Homo sapiens: one gene and its partners. The protein of the gene in region 1 purifies or fractionates together with the protein of each later gene. This does not show direct contact. Each region holds a gene or a part of one and is shown in the gene's direction. Other genes may lie near its edges.

Region 1 (3,500 bases):
GTAGGTGTTAGTGCAGTGTTTCTCGAAATATATTACACATACCACTGCTAGTACAAGGGCAAACATTAAAAATTTCATTCTTCACTTCCAAAATAGGAAAAATATAAAAAGTAAAGATTTTATTCTTACATACTTACTAATTGGGGAATGTGATACTAGATTTCTATTCACTGTATTATATCAAGGTTTCCTTTTAACGTAATTTTAAAGATAAAGTTTTAAGTGTAAAGGGTCATTAAAAATAATATTAGGCCAGATGCCTATAACCCCAGCACTTTGGGAGACCAAGGTGGAAGAACTGCTTGAGCTCAGAAGTTCTAGGCCAGCCTGGGCAATATGGCAAAACCTTGCCTCTACTAAAAATACAAAAAAAGTTAGCTGGGCATGGTGGCATGCACCTGTGGTCCCAGCTACTTGGGAGGCTGAGGTGGGAGGATGGCTTGAGCCCAAGAGGTGGAGGTTGCAATGAGCTGTGATCATGCCGCTGCACTCCAGCCTGGGCAACAAGAGTGAAACTCCATCTCAAATAAATAAATAAAGTTTAAAAAAATTAAATAAATATTACTGTAGGTGGTGTATGGTTAAGGCCAAAACCATGGTGATGGTATGTGACTAAATTTTATTTTTTTATTTTTTATTTTTATTTATTTTTTTTTTTAGTTGGAGTCTTGCTCTGTCACCCAAGCTGGAGTGCAGTGGCATGATCTCGGCTCATTGCAACCTCTGCCTCCTAGGTTCAAGTGATTCTCCTGCTTTAGCCTCCCAAGTAGCTAGGATCACAGGTGCATGCCACCACACCCAGCTAATTTTTGTATTTTTAGTATTTTGTATTTTTAGTAGAGACGGGGTTTCACCATGTTGGCCAGGCTGGTCTCAAACTCCTGACCTCCAGTGATCTGCCTGTCTCGGCCTCCCAAAGTGATAGGATTACATGCATGAACCACTGTGCCCGGCCTAACTAAATTTTAGAAAACAGTGTTCATAGAACCATCTAAAAGAGTTCAGATGTTACTTCTGCATTGTTCTATGTGGTTTATATTTTGGAACTTTAAACATAGTTTTCAAAGAAGAATGGAAGAAACCATGAAGCTTGCTACGATGGAAGACACAGTGGAGTACTGCCTGTTCCTGATACCAGATGAGTCAAGGGACTCAGATAAACATAAAGAGATTCTTCAGAAGTACATTGAGAGAATAATCACTCGGTTTGCACCTATGCTGGTCCCCTACATCTGGCAGAATCAGCCTTTCAATCTTAAATATAAACCTGGGAAAGGTAAGGCTCTTTTACTTGTTTGGATTAGTGTGACTTTTAATGTTATCCTGACAACAGTGATGTGTAATAGTCCACGCTTCATTCAGTGTTGCCAGGAAGAGATTAATACACTAAACTTTTTAGATGAGTAATACTTGTCTATATTCAGTTAGCCTTAAAGCTTTTTTTTAAAAAAAATCATATTAATGAAAACTTTCTAAATTTGCCTTAGGAATTAGCATATACTAAACATTATTAAACTCATGGCTATTCTTTTGAACTTTAGTTACTACACTATGCCATAATGTATCTAAGTATCTATACTAAATAGTTTCAGGCATCTGGCTTTAATCATGGTTCCTTTTGCTGTTACTCAGGATTCCTTATTTTGGTGATGTGTTTGGTAGGCTGCCTTGTTTCATATAGCCATTTTGGTGAGGATCTGAGTGGCTCTGCCCAGCTTATAAAGATAAATAATTGGGCTTTATGACTAATATTTGCCACTTACAAGCATTTTGAGGTTTCTTCATTGCTTCCCTGTGTTGTTGGTGCTTGAGATCTGACCTCTGGCAAAATATGGCACTCTGTCCTGTTATGAGAAAAACCCAGGATTAAACTAGGAGGGAGCGGAGAGACCAAAGAATGACTCGGACAGGTCTATCTTGGCAAGTAGATGAGTTTATTAGGACTTACAGACAAGACACTCCTGGGCAGCATCAGGACAGCTCTAGAAATCCACCCCACCTCCCATATTTAAGTTGCTAGTAAGCTAATTTTTTGGCTCTTTGCCTACTGCGTATATGCAATGACACTGTTTTCCTTGGTATGTTCCCAGCTATGCCCTGCAATGTTTGGGTTCTCAGGACCTGCTCCTCTGCTAGGCATGATGGCTTTGGCTTGCCAGCTGGCCTTTGAAGTTTAAGCAGCAGACATATACCCTTAAGTAGTCTGGTGGGGAACTGGTCACATTACAGTTCTATCATTTCTTATAGTTTTATGAAAATAAATCATGGGTAGGTGACCAAGTCTCTCCTTACACAGTGACTTATGTGAGGTCTTATTTGGGATCAGGAGCCTGGCATCTTGTGATACCATCACAAGATATACCCCCCATGTATACATCACAAGTATACATCACTGTGATACTCTCAGTTTAGTGCGTATCTGTTATCTTTTGGCAACAATTGCTACATATCTTACTGTTAATTTTATTGAACTCTTATTCATTGAAATACATATGATATTTATTGGCAAGAACACTGTCACATTGGTGTAGCACATCTAAAACCAACCCTTTATCCATCCTCTAGAAAACCATTTTTACTGTTTTCTTATCTTGTTTAATGGCATTGCCATCCACCCAGTTATCCAAGCTAGTCAGTAATTCAAAATCATAATCAGTTCCTCACTTCACCATGTTCAGTCAGATGCTAAATCCTGAATGCTTCTAAAATATGACCCCTTCTCTACATCTATTTGGCTTCAGTGTAGACCCTCTTTATCTCTACATCTGGAAAACAACAACAGCCTCCTAACTTACCTCTCTGGTTCCTGTCTTTCTAGTTCCTAACACTGTTGCTGGTTATGTTTGTAAAACACAAATTTGATTGTGTCACTCTCCTGCTTAATATCCTTCAGTAGTTCCCATTGCTTCAAGATGAAATTTAAATCAAAGTCTAATATAGACAAAAATAGTTACTTTAATTGGAGTTCTCTAGTTGAAGAAACTTGAGATCTGGGGTGGGGAGAAGAAGAGTTGGTTGGGCTGTTCTTCTACCTATTGTTTGCCATGGCAGCTCTTGAGACACTCTGTAATGCACTTGTTTGACCTTCATTCTGTTAATGTGGGATATTAACTGTACATTGATTTTCGTGTGTTGAACCATCCTTGCATCCCAGGAATAAATCTCGCTTGGTCGTGGTGAATAATCTATTTAATGTGTTGTTGAATTCAGATTGCTGATATTTTGTTAAGGATTTCTGCATTGATACTCATCAGGGATATTGATCTACAGCTTTCTCATATTGTCTTTGTCTGGCTTTGGTATTAGGGTAATGCTGGCCTCAGAAGGAATTTGGGAATTCCCTCCCTTTTATTTTTTTGGAAGATTTTGAGGAGGATTGGTGTCAAATTCTTTAAATGTTTGGAAGAATTCCCCGGTGAAGCCAGCTTTTCTTTGTTAGGAGCTTTTGGATTATTGATTCAATCTCCTTACTAGTTATAGATCTGTTCAGATTTTTGTAT
Region 2 (3,250 bases), on another chromosome or scaffold:
CCCAGGCTGGTCTTGAACTGGGCTCAAGTGATCCGCCCACCTTGGCCTCCCAAAGTGCTGAGATTACAGGTGTCAGCCGCTGTGCCCAGCCGAGAGGTCCTGTTTAAATGACGTGAGTGAGACCTGAGATGAACCAGTCAAGTGATCAGGTAGGGGAATATTTCAAGCCTAGAGGACTGTGTGAAGATGGGGAAGAGGTGATGTCTAGGGCTGGGGGCGGGCAGATCCTGCAAGGCCTTGTCAGCCATAGAGAGGAGTTTGGGTTTGAGTCCAAGTGCAATGGAGGGTCGCAGAAGGGTTTTGAGTAACAGATGGATCTCATCTGACTTGTGATCTAATTTCTCTGGCAGGTTTTTCTGGAGGGCTGGCAAGAAAGTTAGGAAAAACACTTAATGTGTTGTCATCCACATGAGGGGTCAGGAAGCTTAGACCACCAGTAGTAGCAGGGATGCAAAGAACACTCACAGTTTGGTTCATCACACCCCCCACTCCACCACAAGAGTGAGCTCTATTAGAACAGGGACCCCCGGCTCCCTTTGATGTGCATTGTGTTCTTGGCACCTAGAATGGGGCCTGCACTTAATAAGATGGATGAATAGTGGTATTTAATGAGAAGATACTTAATGAAAAGAAGAGGCAGTTTTGGAGGAAAAAAATCATAGGAGCTCAGATATTTCTTAAATGCTGCTTTCTATTTATCTTTTTGAGGTGGAGTTTCTCTCTGTGGCCCAGGCTCGCAGGCTGGAGAGCGGTGGCGCGATCTCGGCTAACTGCAGCCTCCACCTCCCGGGTTCAAGCGATTCCCCTGCCTCAGCCTCAGGAGTAGCTGGGACTACAAGCACCCGTCCCCCACGCCCGGCTAATTTTGTATTCTTAGTAGAGACGGGGTTTCTCCATGTTGGTCAGGCTGGTCTCAAACTCCTGACCTCAGGTCATCTGCCCGCCTCGGCCTCCCAAAATGCTGGGATTACCGGCGTGACCCACCGTACCTGGCCCTAACTGTCCTTTTATTTGTCTGTGTCCCCTAGTGCATTTTATTTGTCTGTGTCCAGCGCAGGGATGCATCGCCTCCCGTAGGCTTGGCACAATTAGTGGCCCAGAGTAGGTGCCTAGTAAAGATGGATTTATGCCACAGCACATTGTAGTGCTAAAAAGAGGGTTTTCTCTTTAGATGATCGGGCCACGTTTTGGTGTGACCACTAGGGGGAGACGTGGCACCGGCGAAGCGCTCGCCAGACCCATTTTTTCGCTCCTTGCGTCATCGCATAGGGCGGGGCTCGTACCTGACGCCCGGCTTCTGGGCCTGCTCTCGCCCTACTAGGGAAAGGGGTGGGGCTTGGCTTTCGGGCGTGGGCGGAAATTGCCGAGAATCCTCGGAAGCTTTGCGAAAACACAGCGCGCCGTCGGCCGCGCTGCGAACCGGAAGTAATCGAAGAAGCCCCGGAAGTTTCGAACTACCACCGGCGTGCGTTCGCAGGTAGATCGCGGTGCCAGTTGCCATGGAGCCGGCCGGGCCCTGTGGCTTCTGCCCGGCGGGGGAGGTCCAGCCAGCGCGTTACACCTGCCCTCGCTGTAATGCGCCCTACTGCTCGCTGCGCTGCTACCGGACGCATGGCACCTGCGCAGAAAACTTCTACCGTGACCAGGTGCTGGGAGAGCTCCGCGGTTGCAGCGCTCCTCCCAGCCGCCTAGCAAGCGCCCTACGCCGGCTGCGTCAGCAACGCGAGACCGAGGACGAGCCTGGGGAAGCAGGCCTCAGCTCCGGCCCGGCGCCCGGCGGCCTATCGGGACTCTGGGAGCGGCTGGCGCCGGGCGAAAAAGCTGCCTTCGAGCGGCTGCTGAGCCGCGGTGAGGCCGGGCGGCTGCTGCCTCCATGGCGGCCGTGGTGGTGGAACCGCGGAGCCGGACCGCAGCTTCTGGAGGAGCTGGATAATGCCCCGGGTAGTGACGCCGCGGAGCTGGAGCTCGCCCCTGCGAGGACCCCGCCGGATTCTGTGAAAGATGCCTCCGCCGCGGAGCCCGCGGCCGCCGAGCGGGTTCTTGGAGATGTCCCGGGGGCCTGCACGCCCGTCGTACCCACCCGCATCCCCGCGATAGTCAGCCTGAGCCGCGGCCCAGTCTCGCCGCTCGTGCGCTTCCAGCTGCCCAATGTGCTGTTCGCCTACGCGCATACTCTCGCCCTGTATCACGGCGGTGACGACGCGCTGCTCTCTGACTTCTGTGCCACACTGCTCGGCGTTTCCGGAGCCCTGGGTGCCCAGCAAGTCTTCGCCTCTGCGGAAGAAGCCCTGCAGGCGGCAGCCCACGTGCTGGAAGCAGGCGAGCACCCGCCGGGGCCCCTGGGCACACGAGGGGCTATGCACGAGGTCGCCCGCATCCTGCTGGGCGAGGGCCCGACCAACCAGAAAGGCTACACGCTGGCAGCACTGGGGGACCTGGCACAGACCCTGGGCCGTGCCCGGAAACAGGCCGTGGCTAGAGAAGAGCGAGATCATCTTTACCGGGCCCGGAAAAAGTGCCAGTTCCTCCTGGCCTGGACCAACGAAAATGAGGCGGCCCTCACACCCCTGGCCCTAGACTGCGCCAGGGCTCACCAAGCCCATGCTGTGGTAGCCGAGGAGGTGGCCGCCCTCACTGGGGAGCTGGAGCGGCTTTGGGGAGGCCCCGTGCCACCTGCCCCAAGAACTCTCATTGAGGAGCTCCCTAGCTGAACGGGTTACCCTGGTCATTAATAAAGCTGTGACTGGTCAGCCCTGTTGCTTGTTTCTGAGGGATAGCTATTGTCCCACCAGACCCCAGATTCCTGGGCCCACAAGCCACTGCTCAGCTTCTCCCTGATCAGTGCTGACCCAGCCAGTCCTAGGGGAGAGAAGTGCACCAAGGGTTCCCAGTGTTTATCCAAAGGAGGAAGAGCATCTCCGATTTTGGTCACTGGTTTCATTTTTTTCCTTGCTCTAAACCACCTCTTCTCTGAGGTTGTTCATCCTCAGGGCTGGGTGGGGTGCAAGCCCTTGAGTCCCAAGTGTGTCGAGGCTCCTGGTCCTGGGTGTGCTGGTGGATGAGTGGGCACATGCCCCCACCTGGGGTGGTGGAGCCGCTTCAGTAGATGTAGGGCATGATGCGGTAAGGCACACGCCGGCAGTACTCCTGCCAGGCCAGGCCGTACTTCTGCAGGCACTGCCGCTCATCCCGGGCCTCACGGTGCACCAGCAGCGCGGTGAAGTAGAGGAGGTAGAAGTAGGGCAGCAGG
Region 3 (3,500 bases), on another chromosome or scaffold:
AAAACTTCAACGAAAAAGTGTGTGTCAACACTGAAGACAGATTCCTCATTATTAGAGACCTTGATGAATGTGACTGTTCCCTCCTAATCCATGATATTCATCAAATGGCCACCATGTCCTACCTGTTCTAAATAGAGCGAGGCAATTTCCAGCATTCTTACACAGAAGATGCCATAGTACATTTGGCTTCCAGTGAATGTTCCACCAAAGACCACTTGAGACCGGGAAGAAGGAAATTAAGAAAGGTGTTCTGTTTATTGAATGGGTAATACTTCACTACGCACTGAGCTGGGTGCACTGCAAATCTTGGGGCATTCATTCTTATAACGATGATAATATGAGATAGGTTCAGCAAATATCCCGATTTTCCAGGCTAGGAAACAGCAATGATAAGGGGAGTGACTTGCCCAGCAGCACCCAGACAGGAAGTGATGGAGGGAGAATTGGTCATAGAGCCTAAGAGGAACATTGCAGGTGGGAAGAAGAGAAGCAGAGTAGGAGGTCTGGCTTGGACTTCTAGCCTTGCAGGGTAGGTGAGGGATCACAGACAATGTAGAGCCTCAGGAAATTTACTTGCCACCCCTCAAGAAGGTCTAGCGATCAGGTTCAGGCCAGATGAGGACAGAAGATAGAGGGGAACTGGTCTGGGAGGCCTGAATCCTGTGGGCTTCCAGAAAGTCCTTCTGAAGCTCCTTGTGAATAGCAAGTAAAGAGAAGGCTGCATGCTGGAGAAACTGGAAGAGGGAAGCCAGGATGCCTTGCTGACTCCTGACCCTTCCTCCCCACAGTACCTGCTAAGCTGCTCAACTCCTCTTGCTCCTTGGAGAAGACACTGCAGTGCAGCTGTTCCTTCCATGGGATTCCCACACCCTCTGTGCAGTGGTGGATGGGAGGAGTCCCCGTGGGTGTGGATGGCATGGATGGCAGCCTCCAAGTGACTTCCACCATGCTTGGCCCCTGGGCTAACAGCACCATCAGCCTAACTGAAGAGCCAGAAATGGGCATGAGACTTCTCTGTGAGGGGAAGAACCAAAACGGAACCCATGCTTTGAGCATCCTACTGATGTCAAGTGAGGGTGGAGGGGGCTCGGTGACTGGGTGAGGACAATAAGCGGGATGGGGACAGTCACTGGGGCTAGAGAATGGAGCAGAGTTTTGGCTCCGATGCCAAACTTCTCACATGCTCTCTGCTTCCAGGAAAGAGTTCTTTGGCTGCCCAGGCCTTCGTGAAAGGGCTGATCCAGGGTGCTATCTATGCGGGAATTGTAATTGCGCTGCTCTTCCTCTGCCTCCTCCCTCTCATGTGAGTACTAGGGTTAATATTCACCCGCAAGCCTACTACCGGGCAGGCCCTGGCTGCAGCCCTGGCACAGAGAGAGCAAAGACAGGACCCCTCCCCTCAAGGAGCTTAGGGTCTAAAGAGGGAAAGATGTACCAAACATGGTCACCACAATCCAGGGCCATGAGGACTATACAGAACCGTAAAACTGTGTCATAAAACAGACACTTTGAACACATTTTATAAAGGAGAAGACCAAGAAGGGACTTGGCAGCCCTGGAAAAGGCAGCAGCGAGTCCCCGGGGTGCTGTCTGTGGTGGGCCTGCAAGGGTTCAGTACTCGTTAGCTTGGTGGAAAGTATTAATAGTACAGGTTGAGTATCTAATCCAAAAATCCAAAATCCGAAATGCTCCAAAGTCCAAAAGTTCTCGAGGCACCGACATAATGCCACAAGTAGAAAATTCCACACCTGACCTCATGTGATAGTTCAATGCACACAAACTTTATTTCATGCACAAAATAATTTTAAATATTATATAAAATTACCTTCAGGCCATGTGTATAAGGTATATATGAAACATAAATGAATTTTGTTTTTATACTTGGCTCCTATCCCCAAGATATGTCATTATGTATAAACAAATATTCCAAAATCTAAAAAAAAAAAAAAAAATTGAAATCTGAAACACTTCTGGCCCCAGGCATTTCAGATAAGGGATATCTAACCTTTGTATGCAGACGCCCAGAGGCATGTTTGAGGCATTTCCAGTGTCTTTGTATAATGTCAGGTGCATTGAGAGTACCAGGTAATGGCTAAAAATGAGGTTGAAAGACATCCTTGGTGTTGGTTCACAGGGTGTTAAAACTTAGCTGCATGTATTAGCTAGAAGCATGGAGTGGGAAGGGGTGAGTTGCAGGAAGTCAGGCCAGAGAGACGGGCAGGGGAGCCTGTCCAGACAGCTTGGACTGAATCCTCATTTCGGAGCCATGGAAGAGTGCTAAGCTGTGAAGGAAAGCTTGAGCTTGGGGTGGGACACAGATTAGAGAGAGTGAGAGCCAGAAGGTCAGAGGCCAGGCAGGAAGCTGGTGCAGGGGACTAAGCAGGAAATAGAAGGCCTGACCTGGGGCAAGTGATGAGGGGCAGCCAGAGAGGTGGGACTTGGGCATGGCTGGCTATGGGGAGACAAAGATGAGGAGTGAGGTGTCAGGGCAAACTGAGGAGCTATTTTCAAAGTATAATCAACAGGACTTGAAGACCAGTAACAATCTCTCTGCCAGTTGCAAGGCCCTTTCTTAGCTGACCTCATCTGAGCCCCACAGCCTAATAAGCAGGGTATCCCCCTTATTCAGAGTGTGAAACTAATTCCCAGAGAGGATGTGTGGCTTGCCCTAGGTCATACAGCAAGCTGGTACTGTTGTTGAGGCTCTAAATCAGAAGTTCTGGTCAAGATAGAGCCCATTTGGGGATTCAGGGAGATGGAGAGCCAGAACCAATCCAAGGCTTATTTCCTTAGAGTGAAACATATCAGAAAGAAGCAGGCGAAGAAAGCTGCAGCGATCAGAGCAAAAAAGAGCTCTAAAGTCAGAGCAAGCCAAGAACTTGAGATGTCTCTGAAGCCTGAGGAACCAGGAAAACCCGTAGTCGCCACATTTTCTGAGAGCCGGATATTGGTATGTACCTATTGTGTCTGGAATCTAGTCTATCGGAATACTGATAATAAGACCCACAGGGAAAGGAGCACACAGTGTTTTGAAGGTGTTATCATCCTCAGTCTTGCAGGATACCTAATGCTAGAGTGTGCTTTCAGGTCATTTTATAAATAGGAAGCTAAGGCCCAGAGAGGAGAAGGATGAAAGTTAAGAGAAACAATTTAAAGAACAATTAAAATCAATTTACACGCACACACCATTACATTGAATCCCCACTGAAAAGGCAGTTGGGGAAAATCCTAATAGCAGTTGTAGCATCAGAGTGGAAACCAAGGATTTGGCCTCTGAGTGTATGGCCGGCAGCAGTCAGCTTGGTGTAGATGCCACAGGCCAAGTCAGCCTGAAGTGGTTAGAGATTAGGCCAAGCCCAGGTTACTCCTTCATTCACCCTGTACCCCACATCTTCAGCAGGGCTTGGAAGATACAGTGTCCGAGGTTGCTATGCCTCACTGTTATTTACCGTTTATGATTCTCCAGAATCAGAATTATCCTGCTGCCCTCCTAACACCCT
Region 4 (3,500 bases), on another chromosome or scaffold:
GGTTTCTCCATGTTGGTCAGGCTGGTCTTGAACTCCTGACCTCAGGTAATCTGCCTGTCTCGGCCTCCCAAAGTGCTGGGATTACAGGCATGAGCCACAGCACCCGGCCATTTAGCTCTTTTTATATGTTGAACATTAAGATAAAAAGATGAGTTTCTATTATAACTGGGGAGGCAGGTACTTAAAAAAAAAAAGAAACTAATAATTTATTTTCCTTTGACCTATTTGTACATGAAAAAAACTAGTTGTAGGCTGGGCATGGTGGCTCATGCCTGTAATCCCAGCACTTTGGGAGGCCGAGGCAGGTGGATAACGAGGTCAGGAGATCGAGATCATCCTGGCTAACACGGTGAAACCCCATCTCTACTAAAAAAAAAATACAAAAAATTAGTCGGGTGTGGTGGCTTGCGCCTGTAGTCCCAGCTACTCAGGAGGCTGAGGCAGGAGAATGGTGTCAACCAGGGAGGCGGAGCTTGCAGTGAGCCAAGATCACGCCACTGCACTCCAGCCTGGGCGACAGAGCGAGACTCCGTCTCAAGAAAAAAAAAACAAAAAACTAGTTGTAATTTATTGCCCATTGAGGACCAAGTAGAAATATAAGTAATGCCTGGCCGAGGTTGGGGATGAGGCAAATGGAGCAAAGCTATCTAATCAAAGTTTCTGCAGTGATTGAAATGTGCTGTATCTGTGCTATCCAATATGGTAGCTAGTAGCCACACTTGAACTGTAAGTAGTAAGACTGAGAAAATGAAGTTTTAAATTTGAGTTAACTTAAATTTAAATAGCCATGTGTACCTAGTGGCTACTGTTATCAGACAGCAAAGATCTAGATGATGCGATACTTTCCCACGGGCTTGGAATCCTGGATTGTAAGAGTGGGGCTCTTGTATTTGTGTTTTGACCAAGTTTGATAATTCTAAGTCTGAATACTGCTCTCAGAAATAATTTGAGTCTTTCATGCTTTCTTCTTCAGTTAGGAGCTCTTTTACCACACTGTTGCCCTTTTTTTTGAGACAGTCTGGCTGTGTTACCCAGGCTGGAATGCAGTGGTGTGATCTTGGCTCACTGCAGCCTCCGCCTCCCAGCTTCAAGCAATTCTCCTGTCTCAGCCTTCTGAGTAGCTGGGACTACAGGTGCACACCACCTCATCCAGCTAATTTTTGTGTTTTTAGTAGAGACGGTTTCACCACATTGGCCAGGCTGGTCTCGAACTCTTGGCCTAAAGTGGTCTGCCCACCTCAGTCTCCCAAAGTGCTTGGATTAGAGGCGTGAGCCTCCGCCCGCGCCCACCCCACCCTGTTGGCCTTGAGACACACTAGTCAGGCCCTTCCTTAGAGGACTGAAGTTTCTGCCGCCAGGCAGTCAGATCAGAATATTGGTTAATTTTAGGGCTGGGCATGGTGGCTCATGCCCGTAATCCCAGAGCTTTGGGAGTTCTGAGGTTAGGAGCTTGAGACCAGCCTGACCAACATAGTGAAACCCCATCTGTACTAAAAATATAAAGAATAAGCAAGGTGTCGTGGTGCATGCCTGTAATCTCAGCTACTCGGGAGGCTGAGGCATGAGAATCGCTTGAACCGGGGAGGCAAAGTTTGCAGTGAGCCGAGATCATGCTGCTGTACTCCATTCCAGCCTGGGTGACAGAGTGAGACTTAGTCTCAAAAAAAAAAAAAAAAAAAAGGAATATTGGTTAATTTTAGTTACATTCGATATCAGATGAAGGAAATGTTTAGAGGGCTCCAGATACACTCTGGGGGCAGAAACCTTAGGAGTGAGAACTAAGAACGTTGTGTCAATACAATGTATCTTCCAAATACAAATATGGAACTCTTGTTTAGGCAGGCCAACAGGAGGGAGCACCTTGCCTAGCTGAGGCTGGCTCAGAGAGTCCCAGCTTTGCTACTCTGTATCCTCACTGTCCTTCCAATCTTTACTAAGCTTAATTGCAGAGTACAGCATAGGGATGGGGAAACTGGATTGTCCCAGTTTTATCTGAACTATTGCTCAGACTAAAGGATGTTTGTTTTAAAGTGTTCCTTCTAGCTTCCCCTTTCTGAATTTTTATTGTTATGATCCTACTTATACTAGGAATTTTCTTCTCATTTCTCTTGTTTCTCAGACAACCTCATCAGCCTTGAAAGGTGCCATCCAGTTAGGCATTACCCACACTGTGGGGAGCCTGAGTACCAAACCAGAGCGTGATGTCCTCATGCAAGATTTCTACGTGGTTGAGAGTATCTTCTTTCCCAGGTACAGAGTTTAATGTTCAGGAGCATGTCCTGGAAATGTGGCCTTTTCAAATCAGCCCAGGGCAGTTTTAGGGGTTCAGGTCGGACAATTTAGACATGTGTCCATTTCTTAACCTGGTTACAATCAGGGCGATGTGGGACTAGAGAGTTCGGAGAGCAGATACTGTCCTCTAGATGCTTCCATTAGCCTCTGTCCTATGGATTGACCCGTAAAAAACAACCTAATGCATTGGATAGGAGGCAGTGTGATTTCTTCTTCTTCTTATGTCTTGCTGTCCATGCTGTGCCATTGTCTCACTAACTCATCTAAGAAGGGCTGTGATTATCTTAGGAGGAATGTATTCCCCCACTCCCCCCACCATGAGGTGACTCTGAGTGTCTTCGCAAGGTAGATTCTCTGGATGATAGGGACTGGCAAGTTATGGCTACCTCTGTTTAACCCCACAGTGAAGGGAGCAACCTGACCCCTGCTCATCACTACAATGACTTTCGTTTCAAGACCTATGCACCTGTTGCCTTCCGCTACTTCCGGGAGCTATTTGGTATCCGGCCCGATGATTACTTGGTAAGCATCTGGATATCAGGACACTGTGACTCCAGTATCAGAGGGATATTCCCAAAGGAAGGCCCCTTTTCTCCACAGTCTCGCTCTGGTTTTTATTTAGAAAAGAATTGCATCTGTAGTTGATTTTTGTGTTGGGCAAGGCCCTGATGTGTCTAAATCTCTTAGTTCTTCTCTGTTTGCCCCAGTATTCCCTCTGCAGTGAGCCGCTGATTGAACTCTGTAGCTCTGGAGCTAGTGGTTCCCTATTCTATGTGTCCAGCGACGATGAGTTCATTATTAAGACAGTCCAACATAAAGAGGCGGAATTTCTGCAGAAGCTGCTTCCAGGATACTACATGGTAAGGGAGAGAGAAGCACTGTCCACCTGTGCTGCTCACTTCTGGGCAAGGCTGGGGAGGCTGTCTTCAGCAGGGTAAAACAGTGTCAGCACTTCTATCTTAAGAGTGTAGTTCAGGCCAGGCACGGTGGCTCATGCCTGTAATCCCAGGACTTTGGGAGGCCGAGGCAAGAGGATCACAAGATCAGGAGATCAAGACCATCCTGGCCAACATGGTGAAACCTCGTCTTTACTAAAAATACAAAAAATTAGCCAGGCGTGGTAGCGGGCGCCTGTAGTCCCAGCTACTCAGGAGGCTGAGACAGGAGAATGGCGTGAATCTGGGAGGCGAAGTTTGCAGTGAGCCGAG
Region 5 (4,074 bases), on another chromosome or scaffold:
TACGTTTCAGTTCCTTTATGTGTGTCACTCAGGTCACTTTTCAGTCCAGACTCAGTCTCATTTTCGGTCACTTCCCCACCCACTAGACTGTAGTCACACCATTTCCTGAAACACCCGCATTGTCACGCCTCTGTTTTCCCCCCACTTTTTCTATAAAACCTTTTCCACAATCTATTAGAATGATTTGTTCTCTCTGGCTTTCATAAAACTTAGCAAATGACTTGTATAGAGATGATCATGTTTTGCTACAATAAATTGCTTTTAAAATTAATATGACCCACTATATTATGCATAACCTGAGAGCAGAGATGTGTCCTCTTTATGATTGTATTTCCAAGGGACTAAGCAGAGGACCCAGCATAACTCAGTACAATTTGGAGGAATTGTTGGGTTGACTTATTTACAAAACAGAGATAACAGATGCCTCTTTTGACTACATCACAAAACAACTAGAGGCACAAATAATATCATAGATGTGAAAACTTTTAGAAAATATAATGCCATATAAACACAAGGTGACACCATGCTTGATTATATGTACACATTACAATTTTGTTCTGATTATCATTGCATTGTTGATTTTATGTTCCCTGAGAAAGTTCCCACATTAGATATTCATGCTGAGTAGTCGACACTTGCTGATACACTTTGAGACTGAGTCACAAACAAAGTTCAGGGTCGGCATTAGATAAAATTGTCTTCAGTGGTTTCTGCTCCTACTTTTCCCAATTTTTACTCATCTTCTATTTTGACAGTCTTACCAGGGTCAAATGCATTTATACAATTCCTCTTTTTGTAGGGGTATACTTTTTATACTAACATGCTGATATGTTCCTAACAAGTTCTTAAGAATTGGAACTTGTACCTAACAAGTTCTTAAGAATTGGAACTTGTATTTTATAAGAGAAAGAAGAGAGCAATGATGAACCTGAAAAATGAATCCTGTTTTGATATTGTACTATAATTATGTAAGATATGACCCCTGACAGAACCTGGGGACAGGGACCTGTCTGTACTCTCTTTGTGACTTACTGTGACTCTATAATTATTTCAAAATCAGAAGTTAAATCTCTCATAATGGTAGATCTGCATATGCCCTGGGCCAGCATACTTTTGTATCTGATGGGCTTTTGATCTGTTTTTTGGTCCTCATCAAAGCAAATGTCTGAGATCAGCAAGGAGGAAGAGGTGAAAGGAAGGCCACAGGATGGGCTGTCAGCGCTGGGCGTAGGCTCCCTCCGCCCACTTCAGCCTCTGCCTCATCTTATGCTCTCAGTGAGGACTTCTCTGCTCCATGCATGCACCACCTTTCACTTATTATTTATATTTTTACATCTTTATTTTAGTTTCTGCCTCCTCCACATAGAATGTAAGTTCTATCATGGCAATATTTTTTTTTTTTTGTATTATTGTATCCTCATTGCCTACAGCTGAGTTAGGCACAGAGAATGCATGCAGCACATGTTTGTTGAATGAATGACTCCTTGTAGAAAATGAAAGCCCGAAAATAAGCCGACTGGTTCCCCGAGAGAGAAGAAACTCAAATCTGCCCATCCTCATAAAGGAGCAAACCTGTCTTTTAAGCTAAGGCCTTTTTCCTGTGTTCATACTTCAGAAAAAGAAGACACGACTGATAACATCTGAGAGGAAGGAAACTGCATTGTGCTGGGGATCTGCATGTCACATTATAAAAAGCAATTTTTTTTTTTAATAGAACCAGCCTTTCAAACAGTTTCCAGAGATGGATTATCCTACTTTACTTTTGGCTCTTCTTCATGTATACAGAGGTAAAGATGATCTTTATATTTTCATTTAAAAGTTTTGCTCCTGTTTTTGTTTGTACAGTGTGGCATATTCAGAATTTACAGTGCTCTTTAGTTGGCTAGGATAATTTCTCACTTGTTCAGAAAAACTAAAAGTTACATTTTCCAATTATCAGCAGGACGCCTTTTTAGACAAAGGCAGAAACTGTCAGCCTTTACTGTGATCTCAATGCACTAGGTCTTCAAAAGCTTAAGATATTGATTTGGTGTTTCCATCATCAAGGCTAACAATTAATGTGATGTTGTATATTTCAGCTCTATGTGAAGAGGTGCTTTGGCATACATCAGTTCCCTTTGCCGAGAACATGTCTCTAGAATGTGTGTATCCATCAATGGGCATCTTAACACAGGTGGAGTGGTTCAAGATCGGGACCCAGCAGGATTCCATAGCCATTTTCAGCCCTACTCATGGCATGGTCATAAGGAAGCCCTATGCTGAGAGGGTTTACTTTTTGAATTCAACGATGGCTTCCAATAACATGACTCTTTTCTTTCGGAATGCCTCTGAAGATGATGTTGGCTACTATTCCTGCTCTCTTTACACTTACCCACAGGGAACTTGGCAGAAGGTGATACAGGTGGTTCAGTCAGGTAAGGGCAAGTTTTTTTTTTTTTTAAATCCCTTTTTATCCACTTACAACATTTATTTCTATAAAGCCCAAGTAGAAGCTATAGAATGTCTTCTCGTATTTCTGTGGCATTCTCCAATTCCATTTCTAGATGCTTTGATGTTACTGCTTTGAAGGAGCAATCTTGGGAGTCTGTTTCATTTTTCTGACTGTGCTGTTGTGTCCGAGTAGAAGTGCCTTTCAAATTTGAATGTAGTAGAAGAAAGCACAGGTTTTTTGTTGTCTTAATGATAACCTGAGCCTTGATTAAACTGATGTTGGCAACACATGGGTTCAGGATCCTTTCAGGGTTTTATCACAGTGACATAGCACCATTCCCTTCTGCTGGACACTCCAGCACCCACATCAACCCCTGTGTGTTCAAGGTTCTTCCTACAGTACCAAATCTAAGTTTGTTTTCTTTCTTTCTTTTTCTCTTTCTTTCTTTCTCTCTCTCTCTTTCTTTCTTTTCTTTCCTTTCTTTCCTGTCTTTCTTTCTTCTTCCTTCTTTTTTTTTTTTTTTTTTTTTTTTTTTTGATGGAGTCTTGCTCTGTCACCAGGCTGGAGTACAGTAGCATGATCTTGGCTCACTGCAACCTCCAGCTCCTGGGCTCAAGCGATTCTCCTACCTCAGCCCCGCAAGTAGCTGGGACTACAGGTGTGCACCGCCACGTGATATGGTTTGAATTCCCATGTGTTGTGGGAGGGACCTGGTGGGAGGTAATTGAATCGTGCGGGCAAGTCTTTCCCATGCTGTCCTCATGATAGTGCATAAGTCTCATGAGATCTGATGGTTTAAAAAAGAGGAGTTCCCCTGCACTAGCTCTCTCTGTTTGCCTGCTGCCATCCATGTAAGACGTGACTTCTCCTTGCCTTCCACCTTGATTGTGAGGCTTCCCCAGACATGTGGTGCTGTAAGTCCAATTAAACCTCTTTCTTTTGTAAATTGCCCAGTCTTGGGAATATCTTCATCAGCAGGGTGAAAACGGACTAATACACCATGCCAGGCTGATTGTTGTATTTTTTGTAGAGATGAGGTTTCAACATGTTGCCCAGGCTGGTCTTGGACTCCTGAGTTCAAGTGATCCAACTGCCTCGGCCTCCCAGAGTGCCAGGATTACTGGCATGAACCACCAAGCTTGGCCCTGGCTCTATCTTTCACCTCATCCAGGTTTAGCTAGAGAGGACACTTTCTTCATAAATTGTGAGCTGTGGTGTCAGAAAGAACCCAATGATCCCTTGGAGTGTTTTTTGCTTTATCTACCAGAGATTGTGGTTTTGTCTTTCTAGTGATGACTACATGAACTGGTTGTAGTATATTGGAAACACTTGGGTTTATAGTCATCACTTTCCATCAACCTGGTGTTAGTTGCTCGATCCCTCTGAATCTCAGGTTCCTGAAGAGGAAATGGGGTTGGTAGTGCCATTCTACTTGTTGAATGGCTGAGGGACGATATATTTAAAGAACTTGGTCCATGGTAGTCAGAGAATGATACATCTTATTATTTCCTATGCTTGTGATCCAAAAGGACTAATAATGAAATTTTCAGATATTAGTGACAATCTAAAGCAGGGAATATTTTTGGAACTGTGTGTTTCTTGTGTGGTGTCTCTCAAATTATACTCATGGCTGTACAGAGAAG
Region 6 (3,500 bases), on another chromosome or scaffold:
CCTCACTGCCGCCTTGCAGTTGGATCTCAGACTGCTGTGCTAGCAATGAGCGAGGCTCCGTGGGTGTGGGACCCTCTGAGCCAGGCGCGGGATATAATCTCCTGGTGTGCCATTTGCTAAGACCATTGGAAAAGCACGGTATTAGGGTGGGAGTGGCCCGATTTTCCAGGTGCCATCTGTCACAGCTTTGCTTGGCTATGAAAGGGAATTCCCTGACCCTTTCTGCTTCCCGGGTGAGGCGATGCCTCACCCTGCTTCAGCTCACACTCGGTGCGCTGCACCCACTGTCCTGCACCCACTGTATGACAAGCCCCAGTGATACGAACCCAGTACCTCAGTTGGAAATGCAGAAATCACCCATCTTCTGCATCTCTCTCGCTGGGAGCTGTAGACTGGAGCTGTTCCTATTCAGCCATCTTAGAACCCAATATCAATAGTCTTTTTTTTTTTTTTTTTTCTTTTTGAGATGGAGTTTTGCTCTTGTTTCCTAGGCTGGAGTGCAATGGCGTGATCTCAACTCACTGCAACCTCCGCCTCCCGGGTTCAAGCGATTCTCCTGCCTCAGCCTCCTGAGTAGCTGGGATTATAGGCATGCACCACCACGCCCAGCTCATTTTTGTATTTTTAGTAGAGACGGGGTTTCACCACATTGGCCAGGATGGTTTCGATCTCTTGACCTTGTGATCCGCCTGCCTCAGCCTCCCAAAGTGCTGGGATTACAGGGGTGAACCACCACACCCCCGGCCTCAGATATTTTTTGTGACCCATTTTCTGTCTCCAGTTACATGTCACTACACTGCTAGATACTGTAACAATTTTCCGGGCTCCATTTGGTTTTTTTTTTCCTTCAATATTTTCTTCAAATTGGATAGTTTCTGTTGATTTAACTTTGAGTTCACAAACTCTTTCTCTGCCATCTTTTGCTATTAAGCCTATACAGTGAACTTTTTATTTCATTTATTTCTTGTCAGATCTGGAATTTCCATCTGTTTTTTTAAATTTTATGAAACATTTTTACAGTGGTTAGATACACGTAATGTAAAACTCATCATCTTACTCATTAAAATGTAGAGTTCAGTGATATTAAGCACTTTCATATTGCTGTGCAACCATCACCACCATCCATCTCCACAATGCTTTTTCATCCTGCAAAACTGAAATTCTATATATTTGGCCATTGTTATTAGTTTCTGTTTCTCTATTGATCTTGTCTTTATTCCTTATTCAGATATTTTCCTTTAAGTGCTGTAAATTTTCTCTCTGCTAAATTGCAACACTGGGTCATCTTGGTGTTGGTTTCTATAGATTGCTTTTTTCTTGAGTACAGGTCACATTTTCTTGTTTCTTAGCATGTCTAGTGATTTTTGATTGAACACTGGACATTATGAATGATATAGAGATTCTGGATTCTGTTATGATCTTCAGAAGGGTATTTTTTTTTCTTGGCATATTGTTAATATGGCAAGATTTAAGCTCTAAACTCCTATCTCCCCTGCATTAGCCGTAGTTGAAATCTCCATGCAGTTCTTTCAATTTCCAGTTGTTACTTTTTGCTGGCCCCCCCTGGGTTCTCCAGCCAAGGATCTGAACATATATTTAGTTGCAGATTTGGGAGTTTCACCCCCTGTGTGGCTCCCTCCCTTTCATGGTTTTGTCTTAACTTTCTGGCTGCTCTTCCAGCCCTGAACTTTGTCCCTGTCACTCTGAACCATGCCTTATAGGGATTGGCATGTATTCTTAGGCAAAAAGCTACAGATGTATAAATCTCACCAAGTACAGTTCTTCTCTTTCAAGGGTAGCCTCTCTTTCAATTTCTACCTGCTTTTGATCATTCTCCCAGTGCCTTCAAATAATTTAAAATATGTTGTCCAAAGTTTATAATTGTTTTCTGTGGAAGGGTGATGTGACACTGCTACTCTGTCACTGTTGGAAGCCAGATGCCAAGCAGATACCTTTTGGGGCTTACGTTCAGATGCTTCCCTTGTTCTCAGCCTTGTGCTCAGCTGGGCTGTGGAGGAAATAGGACTTCTTCTCAGGGAGCTCCATTTTCAGCTGAGGAGCAGAGAGGGCACAGGGAGCCCTGTGGGAGTATCTTAGTCAGCTCAGACTGCTGTAACAAAATGCCACAGTTGAGTGGCATAAACAACAGAAATTTATTTCTCACAGTTCTGGAAGCGAGAATCCAATATCAAGGTGCCAGCAGGATTGAATTCTGGTGAGGCCTTTCTCCTTGGCTTGCAGATGGCTGCCTTCTCATTGTGTCCTCACATGGCCTTTTTTCCTGTGTGCATGTGCTCCTAGTGTCTCCTCCTCTTATAAGGATTCTGGTCCTATTGGATCAGGCCTCATCCTTATGGCCACATTTAACCTTAATTATATCCTTGAAGTCCCTGTCTCTAAATATACTCACATTGAGGGTTAGGGCTTCAACCTGAATTTGAGGGTGGGGGATACAGTTTCGTCCATAACAGAGATTAATCTAGCTTCTAGCCTCAGGATTTTGTGAGGGAGGTAGGGGAGACAGAGTTGTGTTGTACCAATAGCATCAGGACGTGTTCAATCAGTCACCATGTAAATGCAGAATGTTCCAGGCATAGCATGAAGGGCTAAGGATTCAGTTAGGGATAAGACTGGCCCCATCCCTGCCCTCATGGAACTCACAGCCTAGGAGGATAAAAGATGTATAGACATGACATTGCAGAGTGATGAAGTAGGGGACGTACAGGGCTCCCTGGGAACACTGAGGAAGAGGTGCCCAAATAAAGGTTAGGGGTCAGGAGAGGCTTCCTCAAGAAAATGTCTTTCTTTCTTTTTTCTTTTTTTTTTTTTTTTGAGATGGAGTTTCGCTCTTGTTGCCCAGGCTGGAGTGCAATGGAGTAATCTCGGCTCACTGCAACCTCCGCCTCCTGGGTTCAAGCAATTCTCCTGCCTCAGCCTCTTGAGTAGCTGGGATTACAGGCATGCGCCACCACGCCCAGCTAATTTTGTATTTTTAGTAGAGACAGGGGTTTCACCATGTTGGTCAGGCTGGTCTCGAACTCCCGACCTCAGGTGATCCTCCTGCCTCGGCCTCCCAAAGTGCTGGGATTACAGGCTTGAGCCACTGCGCCTGGCCAAGAAAATGTCTTTCTAAATTAAAATGCTTCCATGGAAGGATGGCGTGACCAAGCTACTCTGTCACTGTTGGAAGCCAGATGCCAAGCAAAAAGCTTTCGGGGCTTAGGATGAGTGAAGCATCAGCTGTGGAAGAAAAGAAAATCAAGCAGAGGGAATGGTAAGTGTGAGGGAATCCCGGGTTGAGAAGGGCACTCCAGAAGAACAGAAAGTCGATGAGTAGAGGTGGAGCTAGAGCTGGGAGAACTGGGGAAGTGGAGCAGTGAGGGATAAGGCCAGAGAGGTAGGTTGGGGCCAGCTCACTTGTTGGATTGTAACTGCCTATCCCTCTAGAGAGTAAACTCCTTTTTTCTGTTCTTTTTGTTTGTTTTTTGCTTTTTCTTTTA
Region 7 (3,995 bases), on another chromosome or scaffold:
AACTCCTGACCTCAGGTGATTCACCCGCCTCGGCCTCCCAAAGTGCTGGGATTACAGGCGTGAGCCACCGCACCCGGCCCAGTACTTCATTTTCAGATGCAGACATGAAGGACCAGAAGGCTGAAGCAACCTGCCCAAAGCCACTATGCTGGCGGGTGGCCGAGTTTGGGTTTAATCCAGGCCCGAACCTCAGTTCCCTCAAGATAAAGTTGGGGTGATTATGGCACCTTTCTCAGGATTAGGTTGTGAGGCTCAGATGCCATCATGCAATCATGGCAGGCACACGGGGGCCCCTCTTCAAACGTCTGTGCGCTTCCCTTGTGCCCCGCCCTGGCACACAGCCGCCCCCGCGGAGCCCAGGGATCCCAGCCCGGCAGTCCTCCGTCAGCTGCTTCTGTTTGGATGGCGGGGACGGCTGGGCCGACAGAGAGGCCCATTGTCTCCGTCCTCTGGGGCTCTATTGTTGGGGCCTCCTCCTGGGTTGCAGCCCCACGGACAACCCCAGCTGTCGCTTGGGCCTGGCTCAGCTTACCCCGGCGGTGAGGGTGCGGGTCGGGGACGGAGACGCGTGCACCCTGAAGACAGTAACTAGGCCTGCTCTACAGAGGGAAACGCAGGCTCTGAGAGCCTACATGTCTTCGCCGGGAGTGCTTGTCCCGGAGCTGCTCGCAGACTGGGCCGGGGGTGGGCTCGGGTCGGAGAGGTCACGGGGCTCCTTAGGTCACAGGCGGCAGGGCCAGAGAAACTCCCCCGCCCCTACGTTTAACTCGCGGAAACAAGGGCCCAGAGAGCCCAGACGCCAGCCCAAGGTCACACAGCGAAGCCCCGGCACAGCCCGCCGGGAACCTGTCGTTTCTAACCCCCAGCCTCTCGCCGTTTCTACCCAGCTTGGGAAGCGCAGGAACAGGACATACGGTGGTCGCGCCCCTTCCGCGAGGCCGGGGTGAAACCCGCTTGGCCCTCCCGCCAGGGGGCGGAGCTTCCGAACCAGGCGGGATTCCACCGGGTATTTGCCTGCGGAGGCGGGACTTCGGGCTTGATGGGCGTTGGGGGTGGCCTTCCTGCGGGCAGGCTCTCTGTGTCGCAACACTGGCGGGGCGGGCCAAATCGGCCAGAGCTCTGCCCCCAGAGGACGCGGCTAAGCCCGGGGGCGTGTCCTGGGCTGGCCCCACCCGCGCCCCGCCCCGCCCCGCCCGGTCGCGGAGCTGCGGCCAGCTTTGGGAGGGCCGGCCCCGGGATGTGAGTGCCGCGGGGCGAGGGCGGGGGTGGGCTCCCAGGGGTCCCGGTGGGCGGGCGCGCTAGGGCGAGGGCGGGGACGGCCGGGCGGGCGCGCCAGGTAAGGGCCCAGATTTGCTGGTGAGGGGTGAGGGACGCTCGGGACGGGTGTTTCCAGGCCCTCCCGGCGCGCCAGGCCAGCCCCGCGCCCCTGCTCGGTGGCCCGAGGGACGCGCGCCGGCCGCGGGCCTGGGCCCGGACCCGGAGCGGTCGGGCGATGTGCGCGGGTCTGACGTCTGCGCTGCCCAGCCCCCTGGCTACGCGGACGCCCCCACGGAGGCAGCCACTGGGGCGGATTTCTGTCTCTGGGTGACGACTGCCAGGGTGTGATGGGAAGGGTTAGCAGCGCAGCGGGGTCAGGGGATCCCCGCCCCCCGCCCTGGCTCAGGTTGGGTCCCGACTTGGGTTTCTGAGTGCTTACTGTGCTCAGCTCCTCAGTTGCATTCTCTGAGTCCTCACAACAGCCACACATTTTGCAGCCGAAGCCTTGTGCCACACAGCTGTGGGGGCATTTATTACGGTGCAGAGGTGATGCGCGGAGGCCTTGCAGCCAGACACACCTGAGTGCACGCCTGCTTCTCCACAGACCTGCACTGTGACCTTGGGCACACCTGGTCTGCTCTCTGAGCCTCTGGTGCGATTGTGGTGCCTACCCCCAGGGCTGCTGTGAGGACTGGATTGGAATTGGGTTCCGGGAAAGGCAGCCAGTTTAAGCAGCTGTTGTTGAGGGGCCCTTGTCTGCGGCTGAGGGGCTAGTGGTGCTGGGCAATGGCTGGTGGGTCAGTCCAGGCGGGCTCGGGAGGGAGCTGCTTTCTGCCGAGGCTGCCCCAGCTGTGCGTCTGTCTTTTTCCACACGGTAGGCTACACACAACCCAGCTGTACCAGCATGTGCCAGAGACACGCTGGCCAATCGTGTACTCGCCGCGCTACAACATCACCTTCATGGGCCTGGAGAAGCTGCATCCCTTTGATGCCGGAAAATGGGGCAAAGTGATCAATTTCCTAAAAGGTATGGAAGGTCCCCCTTGGACTCTCATCTGCTTCCTCCAACCCACCTGTCCTCTCCGTCCTCATCCCCAACATAAGCCTCAGGCTCTCTCCCATCTTCAGTTTCAGCCCTCGGATGGCCTTCCACCCATGCTTCCGCCCAAAATGATTTTTCCAACACAGACTCCTAATCACGATATGATGTCCCTGACTCAGACTCTCCCTGGCTCCCCATCCTGTGGGCCTAAGTCCTGCCTCTGCCCAAGAGGCCTAGTGGAAAGGTAGCTGATTACTGATGGGCACAGGGAAGGTGAAGCTTGGAGGAGTCCATTTCCTAAGGTTCAGAGAGTCAGGAGGTAGAGCACCTCCACCGCACCTCTCTTGATTACAGATGGGGGAAATTGTGTCCTAGAATGATTAGGAAACATGTGCACCCAATTCCAGTCCAGTCCTCACAGCAGCCCTCGGGGTAGGCACCACAATCGCAGCAGAGGCTCAGGAGCTCACTGTAACCTCCGCCTTTCAGGTTCAAACAATTTTTCTGCCTCAGCCTCCCAAGTAGCTGGAATTACAGGCGTGAGCCACCACACCCGGCCCTGATTTCTTAATATGGCACTCATTATAAGATTGTAAAAGCCCACCTGTAGACCGAACTGGGCACACTGGCTGCCTGCTTGTGACCTCTTTCCAGGGAAGGACACAGCTCCCATTAGTGGCTGAAGTAACACAGTTACAAGAGGCGGAGTTGGGTTTGGAACTCAGAGCTCCAGGCGCCCTACCTTTAGGGCTCATCCCCTTGAGCAAAATGATGCTTCGAAGAGCATATCGTTTTAACTGTGGTTTGTAATCAAGGGGCCTGATTTAGGTGGGAAATTCACTTAAACTTGTTTTAAAAGGAAACATTATGTCATCAAAATGGGAAAAGGCAGTTTCACTTGCCATAAATAGGTCATGGTAAAAAAGTAAATGCAATGAAAACAACAGTATAATTCAATCCAGGCTGGTTACTATTGCCTGCAGGCTGTGAGACTGATTAGTGGTTTGAACGGAAGATGAGCAAAGCACAGGCAGGTGTTGCGAGGCCATGCCACACTGAGCCTCCTGTAATATCATCAGAAGGTGGAGGGAGGCCGGGCGCAGTGGCTCGTGCCTGTAATCCCAGCACTCTGGGAGGCCAAGGCTAGGAGAACACTTGAGGCCGGGAGTTTGAGACCAGCTTGGGCAACATAGCAAGATCCTGTCTCTACAAAATAAAAATAAAAAACTTAGCTGGGGGTGGTGGTATGCACCTATAGTCCTAGCTACTTGAAATGCTGAGGCAGGAGGATCACTTGAGCCCAGAAGTTCGAGGGTGCAGTGAGCTATGGTTGTGCCACTGCACTCCAGCCTGGGCTACAGAGCAAGACCTTGTCTTGCATTTATTTATTTGTTTATTTATTTATTGAGACAGGGTCTCACTCCCATCACCCAGGCTAGAGTGCAGTGGCGGAATCAAGGCTCATTGCCACCTCAACCTCCCTGGCTTAAGTGATCCTCCCACCTCATGTTTTTGATATTTTGTAGAGATGCGGTCTCACTATGTTGTCTAGGCTGGTCTTGAACTCCTGGGCTCAAGCAATCCACCTGCCTCAACCTCCCAAAGTGCTGGGATTACAGGCGTGAACCACCACACCTGGCCAAGACCCTGTCTCTTTAAATGAATTAAAAAAAAAAAAAGGGCGGGGGGAAGGTGG

The links.
Region 2: the proteins of ECD (region 1) and ZNHIT2 purify together in Homo sapiens (affinity purification with mass spectrometry; 4 studies listed by BioGRID and IntAct, with this or other methods). This does not show direct contact.
Region 3: the proteins of ECD (region 1) and SIGLECL1 purify together in Homo sapiens (co-immunoprecipitation; one large-scale study listed by IntAct). This does not show direct contact.
Region 4: the proteins of ECD (region 1) and PIP5K1A purify together in Homo sapiens (co-immunoprecipitation; one large-scale study listed by IntAct). This does not show direct contact.
Region 5: the proteins of ECD (region 1) and CD226 purify together in Homo sapiens (co-immunoprecipitation; one large-scale study listed by IntAct). This does not show direct contact.
Region 6: the proteins of ECD (region 1) and PACC1 purify together in Homo sapiens (co-immunoprecipitation; one large-scale study listed by IntAct). This does not show direct contact.
Region 7: the proteins of ECD (region 1) and HDAC11 purify together in Homo sapiens (co-immunoprecipitation; one large-scale study listed by IntAct). This does not show direct contact.

Annotation. Positions count from the first base shown.
Region 1 is NC_000010.11:73,161,509-73,165,008, reverse strand, and holds part of ECD (protein ecdysoneless homolog), read left to right. Parts: intron 1-1,058; 5' UTR 1,059-1,071; coding exon 1,072-1,276; intron 1,277-3,500. UniProt on the Homo sapiens protein: Regulator of p53/TP53 stability and function. Inhibits MDM2-mediated degradation of p53/TP53 possibly by cooperating in part with TXNIP. May be involved transcriptional regulation. In vitro has intrinsic transactivation activity enhanced by EP300.
Region 2 is NC_000011.10:65,115,903-65,119,152, reverse strand, and holds ZNHIT2 (zinc finger HIT domain-containing protein 2), read left to right. Parts: upstream 1-1,451; 5' UTR 1,452-1,499; coding exon 1,500-2,711; 3' UTR 2,712-2,750; downstream 2,751-3,250. Other genes in the region: delta(14)-sterol reductase TM7SF2, read right to left, coding at 3,100-3,250. UniProt on the Homo sapiens protein: May act as a bridging factor mediating the interaction between the R2TP/Prefoldin-like (R2TP/PFDL) complex and U5 small nuclear ribonucleoprotein (U5 snRNP).
Region 3 is NC_000019.10:51,264,580-51,268,079, forward strand, and holds part of SIGLECL1 (SIGLEC family-like protein 1), read left to right. Parts: intron 1-788; coding exon 789-1,070; intron 1,071-1,197; coding exon 1,198-1,303; intron 1,304-2,793; coding exon 2,794-2,950; intron 2,951-3,500.
Region 4 is NC_000001.11:151,229,552-151,233,051, forward strand, and holds part of PIP5K1A (phosphatidylinositol 4-phosphate 5-kinase type-1 alpha), read left to right. Parts: intron 1-2,119; coding exon 2,120-2,250; intron 2,251-2,696; coding exon 2,697-2,814; intron 2,815-2,999; coding exon 3,000-3,152; intron 3,153-3,500. UniProt on the Homo sapiens protein: Catalyzes the phosphorylation of phosphatidylinositol 4-phosphate (PtdIns(4)P/PI4P) to form phosphatidylinositol 4,5-bisphosphate (PtdIns(4,5)P2/PIP2), a lipid second messenger that regulates several cellular processes such as signal transduction, vesicle trafficking, actin cytoskeleton dynamics, cell adhesion, and cell motility.
Region 5 is NC_000018.10:69,945,074-69,949,147, reverse strand, and holds the start of CD226 (CD226 antigen isoform a precursor), read left to right. Parts: upstream 1-1,274; 5' UTR 1,275-1,741; coding exon 1,742-1,787; intron 1,788-2,078; coding exon 2,079-2,414; intron 2,415-4,074.
Region 6 is NC_000001.11:212,387,387-212,390,886, reverse strand, and holds part of PACC1 (proton-activated chloride channel), read left to right. Parts: intron 1-3,500. UniProt on the Homo sapiens protein: Chloride channel gated by pH that facilitates the entry of chloride ions into cells upon exposure to extracellular acidic pH. Involved in acidosis-induced cell death by mediating chloride influx and subsequent cell swelling.
Region 7 is NC_000003.12:13,479,111-13,483,105, forward strand, and holds the start of HDAC11 (histone deacetylase 11), read left to right. Parts: upstream 1-1,195; 5' UTR 1,196-1,237; coding exon 1,238-1,239; exon of another isoform or gene 1,240-1,336; intron 1,337-2,135; coding exon 2,136-2,284; intron 2,285-3,995. UniProt on the Homo sapiens protein: Responsible for the deacetylation of lysine residues on the N-terminal part of the core histones (H2A, H2B, H3 and H4).